Homo sapiens: one gene and its partner. The protein of the gene in region 1 purifies or fractionates together with the protein of each later gene. This does not show direct contact. Each region holds a gene or a part of one and is shown on either strand. Other genes may lie near its edges.

Region 1 (3,814 bases):
TAAGCAAATAAATAATTACAAATTTTATTCAGTGCTACAGAAGGAAACAAAGTATTGTGATAAGGATAATGGAATTAAATTCATTTAAATAAGGTGACCTTTTTGAAGAGGAAAAACAAGTTCCATTAATTTTTTTAAATGTTGCTAAATTTTAAAATTATGAAAAAGCATTAGGAATAATATAACAAACATCCATATCCCTACTGCCTAGAATTAATAGATGTAATACTGCTATTTTTGCTTCAAGCCTTTTTTATTTTTATTTTTTGGGACAGGGTCTTGCTCTGTTGCTGAGGCTGGAGGGCAGTGGCATAATCATGGCTCACTGCAGCCTGAATCTTCTGGGCTCAGGTGATTCTCACACCACAGCCTCTCAAGTAGCTGGGACTACAGGTGTGCACCACCACGCCTACCTAATTTTTTGTATTTTTTGTGGAGACAGTGTTTTGCCATGTTACCCAGGATGGTCTTGAACTCTTGGACTCAAGTGATCCAGGCCACCTTAGCCTCCAAAAGTGCTGGGATTACAGGTGTGAGCTACCATGCCTGCCTGCCCTTTTTAAATTAAAAGAAATAATATAGTTTCTGGTATGTATTTACTAAGTGCTCACTAAATCAATGTATATTAATGAATAAGTTAATTCTATCAAATCTTAAGATTTGCAAGTATATCAACATTTATCAAATTTTTCTTAACTAATACTAGAGCTTACAGTGACCACTGCTTTCCATTTAATTTTCTACTCTAGAATTTTTCTGTGGTTTGAAATAGTGACTTTATTAAAAACCAGAACATTTGGTAAAATAACTGATTATTAAATTTTTAGTGTCTTGCTGATTTATCCTAAAAGATTTGGCATTAAGGAAACAATATATTCTTTGTGAAAAGAGTTATGATTTTAAAGAATATTTAAATTGTATACCATTTAATATATGTGTTAAATAGTGTTTCAATTTTGGGAACCTGAAATTTCACATACTTTATTGAGCAGAAATTATTATTCAACTCCAGTGTTATTGTAATCCTAAATAAGATATTTTGGTTTGTTCATATCACCCTTTTTCAATATATTGATGATCCTTTAGACAGAAGAAATACACTAAAATAAAAGTACTTACTATAAGCCGGGCACGGTGGCTCACGCCTGTACTCCCAGCACTTTGGGAGGCCGAGGCGGGCGGATCACAAGGTCAGGAGATTGACACTATCCTGGCTAACACGGCGAAACCCCGTCTCTACTAAAAATACAAAACATTAGCCAGGCATGGTGGCGGGCGCCTGTAGTCCCAGCTAATTGGGAGGCTGAGGCAAGAGAATGGCGTGGACCCGGGAGGCGGAGCTTGTAGTGAGCAGAGATCGCACCACTGCACTCCAGCCTGGGTGACAGAGCAAGACTCTGTCTCAAAAAAAAAAAAAAAAAAAAAGTACTTACTATAGAAGTAGGCTGCTCTGAAAAATAGAAATGACAATTTGTTTGTTTGTTTTTGAGATGGAGTTTCGCTCTGTTGCCCAGGCTGGAGTACAGTGGCACCATCTCAGCTCACCGCAACCTCTGCCTCCTGGGTTTAAGTGATTCTCCTGCCTCAGCCTCCCAAGTAGCTGGGATTACAGGCACCAGCCACCACATTTGGTTAATTTTTGTATTTTTCTTTTTCTTTTCTTTTCTTTTTTTTTTTTTTTTGAGATGGAGTCTCGCTCTGTCGCCCAGGCTGGAGTGCAGTGGCGCGATCTCTGCTCACTGCAAGCTCCGCCTCCTGGGTTCACACCATTCTCCTGCCTCAGCCTCCCAAGTAGCTGGGACTACAGGCGCCTGCCACCACGCCCGGCTAATTTTTTTTGTATTTTTAGTAGAGACGGGTTTCACCATGTTGGCCAGGATGGTCTTGATCTCCTGACCTCGTGATCTGCCCGCCTCGGCCTCCCAAAGTGCTGGCATTACAGGCGTGAGCCACCGCACCCAGCCTAATTTTTGTATTTTCAGTAGAAATGGGGTTTCACCATGTTGGCCAGGCTGGTCTCAAACTCCTGACCTCAGGAGATCCACCCGCCTCAGCCTCTCAAAGTGCTGGGATTACAGGCGTGAGCAGGGCTTGCCCGGTTGACAGTTTTTAGTTATGGTGATAATAAGACAGCAACATTGTAATACACAAGTTGTATTCATGGTAATGATCAATGGTCTACTCCACATATTAGAAAAAAAAAAAAAACCCAGAATACCAAAACATTAGAAGCACATTAAAAAACAAGGATAATAAGATAAACAGAAAACAAAGATTACATATATAAAGCATTTTAAAATTCTTACCTCCTCACAACATCGCCTGCTTACAATAGCCCTATAGTCAATTCTATCCCAGAGCTGGTCCCTTAACTTTAAGAAATTAGGGAACAATTTTCTCCAGTTTTTCCCTAAAGCCCATGGAAAAATTTCGTACTTGGTTTCTTCTTCATCTTCTTCAACTGTATTAGCCAGATACCTAACAAAGAAGATCACAACCCAAAAAAGAAATGGGTAAAGGACAGAAACAGGTAGTTCACATACACCAAGACATAAAAGTGGTTTATAAACACATGAAAGGTGTTCAACGTTAATTAAAGAAATGCAGTTCAAAAATAGAGATACATGTAGTTAATTTTACCTTGTTGGGTTCTAGGTATTTCTTATTCCTACAAATCTTGAGCTTTGTTCTGGGATGCAGTTAGTTACTTTGAAATAGTCTGATTCTTTCAGATGTTGCTTTTATGATTTTTTTAGGTGGATCTGGAACAATGTTCAGTCTGGGGCTAGTTATTCCTCACTACTGAGGCAAGACCTTCCTGAGTACTCTTCTCAATGCTCCATGAATTATGAATCTTTTCAGCCTGGCTGGTGGGAACAGCCACTATTTGCAGCCGTATGTGAATGTTAGGCAGTATTCCTCCTAATCTTTTCTTAACATCTTTCCTCAGATTCAGGTAATTTTCTTATACACATATGAAACTCAGCATTCTGCTGAATGCTTGATGGGGACCAGGCATGCACAGAAGCAGGAAAACATGACTCATCATAAGGCGACTAATCAAAATCAACCCCAAACTGATACCCATGGTTGACATAAAAGATAAGGACACTGGAACAGTTATAACTATTCTGTATGTTCAAAAAGTTAAGTAGACATATTGAAAATGTACTTTTAGAGATGAAAACTACAATGTGTACAATGAAAAATACACTGATTGGGATTAATGGCAGATTAAATATTACAGAGAAAACATCTGTGAATTGAAGACACAATAGAAAGTATTCAAGATGAAATACACAGAGAAAAAAGAAACAAAAATCATAAACACAAGATGAGGGCCGGGCGTGGTGGCTCACTCCTGTAATCTCAGAACTTTGGGAGGCCAAGGTGGGCGGATTGCTTGAGGCCAGGAGTTCAAGATCTGCCTGGCCAACACAGTGAAACCCCATCTCTCCTAAAAATACAAACATTAGCTGGGCGTGGTGGCCTGCGCCTGTAATCCCAGCTACTTGGGAGGCTGAGGCAGGAGAATCGCTTGAACCCGGAAGGCAGAGGTTACAGTGAGCCACCGAGATTGCAACACTGCACTCCAGCCTGGGTGACGGGGAGACTCTGTCTCAAAAAGAAAAAAGAAAAAAGAAAAAAATAAGAAAAAATAAACACAGCATCAGTTTGATGTGGGACTTCAAGAAACAGGCGGAATTGGAGACTCTGAAGGCCAGTATCAATAACAATGAAGGATTCTTTCAATGCACTGTAATCTGAATAGGGCAGACAGAAAATGAGGTGGACAGAAGACATTTGAAGGAGT
Region 2 (3,914 bases), on another chromosome or scaffold:
ACTCGGGAGGCTGAGGCAGGAGAATCACTTGAACCTGGAAGACAGAGGTTGCAGTGAGCAGAGATCATGCCACTCCACTCCAGCCTGGGGAACAGTGAGACTGCCATCTCAAAAAAAAAAAAAAAAAAGAGCCAGTGCAAAGGTCCTGGGGTAGGGAGAAGCAAGGAGGCCAGTGTGGCTGGGGTGGAGTGAACAAAAGAGGGTGAGAGGAGGTGAGTGCAGAGATGATGGGGCAGGTTCACATAGGCCCTTGTGGGCCATGGCTGAGAGCCTTGGCTTCTACCTGGAGTGAGGTGCAGCAGGCAGACCCCTCTGAGGGAAAGAGGGCTCCAAAGTGACAGGTGTTCATGGGTCCCTGTGGCTGCATGTTGGAGGAGGACGGGGACAGCAGGTAAGAGGCTGCTGCCGTAGTGCTGGTGGCAGAAGAAGAAGGATGGACCAAGATGAGGGCCCAGGGTAGCGGTGGGGAGAGTGAGATCCTGGAAATCTTTTGGAGATGGAGCTACTGGACCTGTGCATTAGAAGGATGAGGTGTTCAAGGCTGTCACCCAGCCCCATCCAGGCTGGGATGATTTGAGGCAGAGCAGGCTACAGCTCCAGGTGGGAAGCCAAGCCATGACAATGGAGCCAGGACCCTGGGCTGGCTTCAGGAGGCCTCCGTGGGGAAGATACAGGTTCTGAGAGAGTTGGAGGGGTCAATCGGCAGATCTGTTTCCCAGACACTGCTACAGGCATGTAGCATGGTGATTAAGAATCAAAGCTGGGCATGGTGACTCGTGCCTGTAATCTCAGCGCTTTGGGTGGCAGGGGCAGGAGGATCCCTTGAGGTCAGGAGTTCAAGACCAGCCTGGGCAACATGGCAAAACCCTGTCTCAAAAAAAATTCTCCAGACATGGTGGCATGCACGTGTGGTCTCGGCTACTCGGGAGGTTGAGGTGGGAGGATGGCTTGAGCCCAGAAGTTTGACGCTGCAGTGAGCCAAGATCACAACACTGCACAGTAGCCTGGGTGACAGAGTGAGACCCTGTCTAGGAAATAATAAAAATAAAAATCAGACTTTACAGACTGTCTGGTTTCAAATGTTCGCTCCATCACCTACTCATGTACTTTTGGGCAAGCTGCTTAACCTCTGGGCCCCAGTGTGTGAGCCTCGCATTATGATGGTAAGGATGAGATGATCATGATAGGAGTCTCTAGGAAATCACCCCTCTGAGGCACCCATTATGAATGGTGAGCTTGGAGAAGGGGTCCGGTCTAGGGTCCTAGAGAGAGGGTCCCCTAGAGGGTCCCCATCGTCACCACGCCCCAAGACCACTGCCCTCACCGGCCTGGTTTGCAGGCGTGGGGGAAGGGGATGGAGAAGATCTGTGTCCGCTCTCTCAGCCCTCTCTTTTGCCGTTGTATCTGCTCATCTCGCTCCTTTCCGTAGCCATCTCTTCCTCTCCCAGTGCCCGGAGGCTCTCCCCTTTCAGTCGCCGCCTCTGGCCCCTCCATCAATGCGAGCGCCTCCCGGTCCCTCCTCCTGGTCCCTCCTCCCCCGCCGCCGGTAGGGGGGCAGCAGGCGCATGCGCAGTCGCGCCCCTCCCTCTCCGCCCCCACCCCCTGTCGGCGTCTGGGCCTCGTCCCCTTCTCTCTGTCTCCCTTGCCTCCCCCATCACGTCCCCTGACACCGACACCCCATTGCTCCCACAGTCTCCCCAGTCTCCACTTTGGTCCCCAGCGCTGTCTGCCCGAGGTAAGATGGGGAGGGGGCGGCCCGCGGAGAAGGGGAGGGGCGAAGCATCCTGAATCCCGAGATAAACAAACCCGGGGAGGGGGCAGCCGCGACTGAGGGGCCTGACGCGGGAGGAGAAGAATGGGGGGCTGGGCCTGGGGGAGGTGGCAGGCGCTGGGCGCACACACCGGGGCCCTCTATGGGTAACGGGGGTCCCTATGGTTGCCCAAGATCCAGTTGCGCGGAGGCCACCCGGGGCCCTGGAAGCTCCTAGGGGCTTGGACCCTGGAGCCTGCCGGGCACCCTCTCCAGCTGACCTCTGCCTCCAGGATTTGCCTGAAGGCTGCCCCCAACTCTGCACCCGCCCCCCGAGGGCCACCGAGGACCATGACTAAGACAGATCCTGCCCCGATGGCCCCGCCACCCCGAGGAGAGGAGGAAGAAGAGGAGGAGGAGGATGAACCCGTCCCCGAGGCCCCCAGCCCCACCCAGGAGCGCCGGCAGAAGCCTGTTGTGCACCCCTCGGCACCTGCCCCCCTCCCTAAGGACTACGGTAACCACTGTCCCCACCCTGGAATCTGGCCTGGAGCGTTGGGTGGCCGGGGAGGGTGGGCTGTGCTCTGCTGGTGGTGATGGTGGGAGAATTCTGGGGAATTTGAAGGTGGTCCAGAGGAATCTTGGCTGCAGAGCACCCCTCGTTAATTCATTCATTCACCCATTGGAGAATGGAATTGTAATACTCCTAGTCTTTGACTCATGACACATCATTCCATCATTTAGTCATTCAACAATCATTTTTTGAAAGCGGCTGTGGACCTGGCTTTATGCTAGGGGCTGGGGCCACAGCAGGGGGCAAGAGAGACCCAGTCTTTGCCCTGAGACAACTCACAGGCCTCAGTAACAGCCACACAAATAGGTATTAAACCATAATGTAATTTTTCACATTTAGGTTTATATGCAAGAAAGAAAAATATAATGTAATATAAATATGTAATTACAAGACATTATGAAAATTGTATTTACCATAAACAAGCTGCTGCAAGAGTTTTTTAAGACATTGTTTCCCTGAGGAGGTTACAGTTGAGAAGACTGGAGGGTGAGTTGGGGTTAACTAAGAGAAGGGTCAGGGGAAAGGGCTCCCAGGAGAGGTAACCGCTGGGTAAAGGATCTGAGGTAGGAGGGTATGGAGCTGAGAGGGCGGCCTCTTGGAGAAACTGAAAGTGTCTAATCATTGACCGAGCGATATTTATCGAGTGCTGCTACTCTGTGACAAGCCTTATGCTGGGTGCCGGAGATTTAATCCTAAGTGATCCAGGCATGATCCTCCCTTGCAGGAGAGAAGGAGAGACTAAACAAGTGAACAGATAAATAAATCAGAAATCAGATAAATTCAGATTGGAGCAAGTGCTATGAAAGAAAGAAAAGGTGGGCTGGGCATGGTGTCTCACGCCTGTAATCCCAGCACTTTGGGAGGCTGAGGCCAGCGGATCACCTGAGGTCAGGAGTTTGAGACCAGCCATGGCCAACATGGTGAAACCCCATCTCTACTAAAAATACAAAAATTGGCTGGGTATAGTGGCATATGTCTGTAATCCCAGCCACTCGGGAGGCTGAGGCAGTAGAATCGCTTGAACCTGGGAGGCAGAGGTTGCCCAAGATCGAGCCACTACACTCCAGCCTGAGTGACAGAGTAAGACTGTCTCAAAAAAAAAAAAAAAAAAGAAAAAAAAAAAAAAGAAAAGAAAAAAAGAAAAAAGAAAAAGAAATTAAAGGTGGAGATACGATAATGACTAGGGGGCAGCTACCTGCAGGGGTAGTCAGGGCTGCTCTTTCTGAGTAGGTAACATTTAGTTTGGGACCCAGAGCATGGGGAGGAATCAGCCATAAGAGAGCTGGAAAAAGAGTGTTCCAGGCAGACAGCAGCAAGTGCAAAGGCCCTGAGGCAGAATTGAACTTGGAACAGAAAGATCCTGGAGCTGCATTCAGGGAATGATCGAGGTTGAGGTGAGAGGTTGGCATAGGCCAGATCTGGAAGGGCCTTCAAGGCTACAGTGAGGACTTTGGTTATATTCTAAGTGGGACAGGGGAGAAGAGTGGCAAGGGGAGGGTGTTTAAGAGCAGAGGAGTGGCAGGTCTGATTTGTAGTTTGAAAGCTCCCTCTGGGTACTGGGTAGAAGGGGATGGAGTGCAGCCAGAGTTG

What was found.
Region 2: the proteins of SPDYA (region 1) and CLIP3 purify together in Homo sapiens (affinity purification with western blotting; one study listed by BioGRID). This does not show direct contact.

The regions. Positions count from the first base shown.
Region 1 is NC_000002.12:28,827,812-28,831,625, reverse strand, and holds part of SPDYA (speedy protein A), read right to left. Parts: intron 2,479-3,814; coding exon 2,307-2,478; intron 1-2,306. UniProt on the Homo sapiens protein: Regulates the G1/S phase transition of the cell cycle by binding and activating CDK1 and CDK2.
Region 2 is NC_000019.10:36,030,545-36,034,458, reverse strand, and holds the start of CLIP3 (CAP-Gly domain-containing linker protein 3), read left to right. Parts: upstream 1-1,585; 5' UTR 1,586-1,735; intron 1,736-1,823; exon of another isoform or gene 1,824-2,043; 5' UTR 2,044-2,101; coding exon 2,102-2,267; intron 2,268-3,914. UniProt on the Homo sapiens protein: Functions as a cytoplasmic linker protein. Involved in TGN-endosome dynamics. May modulate the cellular compartmentalization of AKT kinase family and promote its cell membrane localization, thereby playing a role in glucose transport in adipocytes.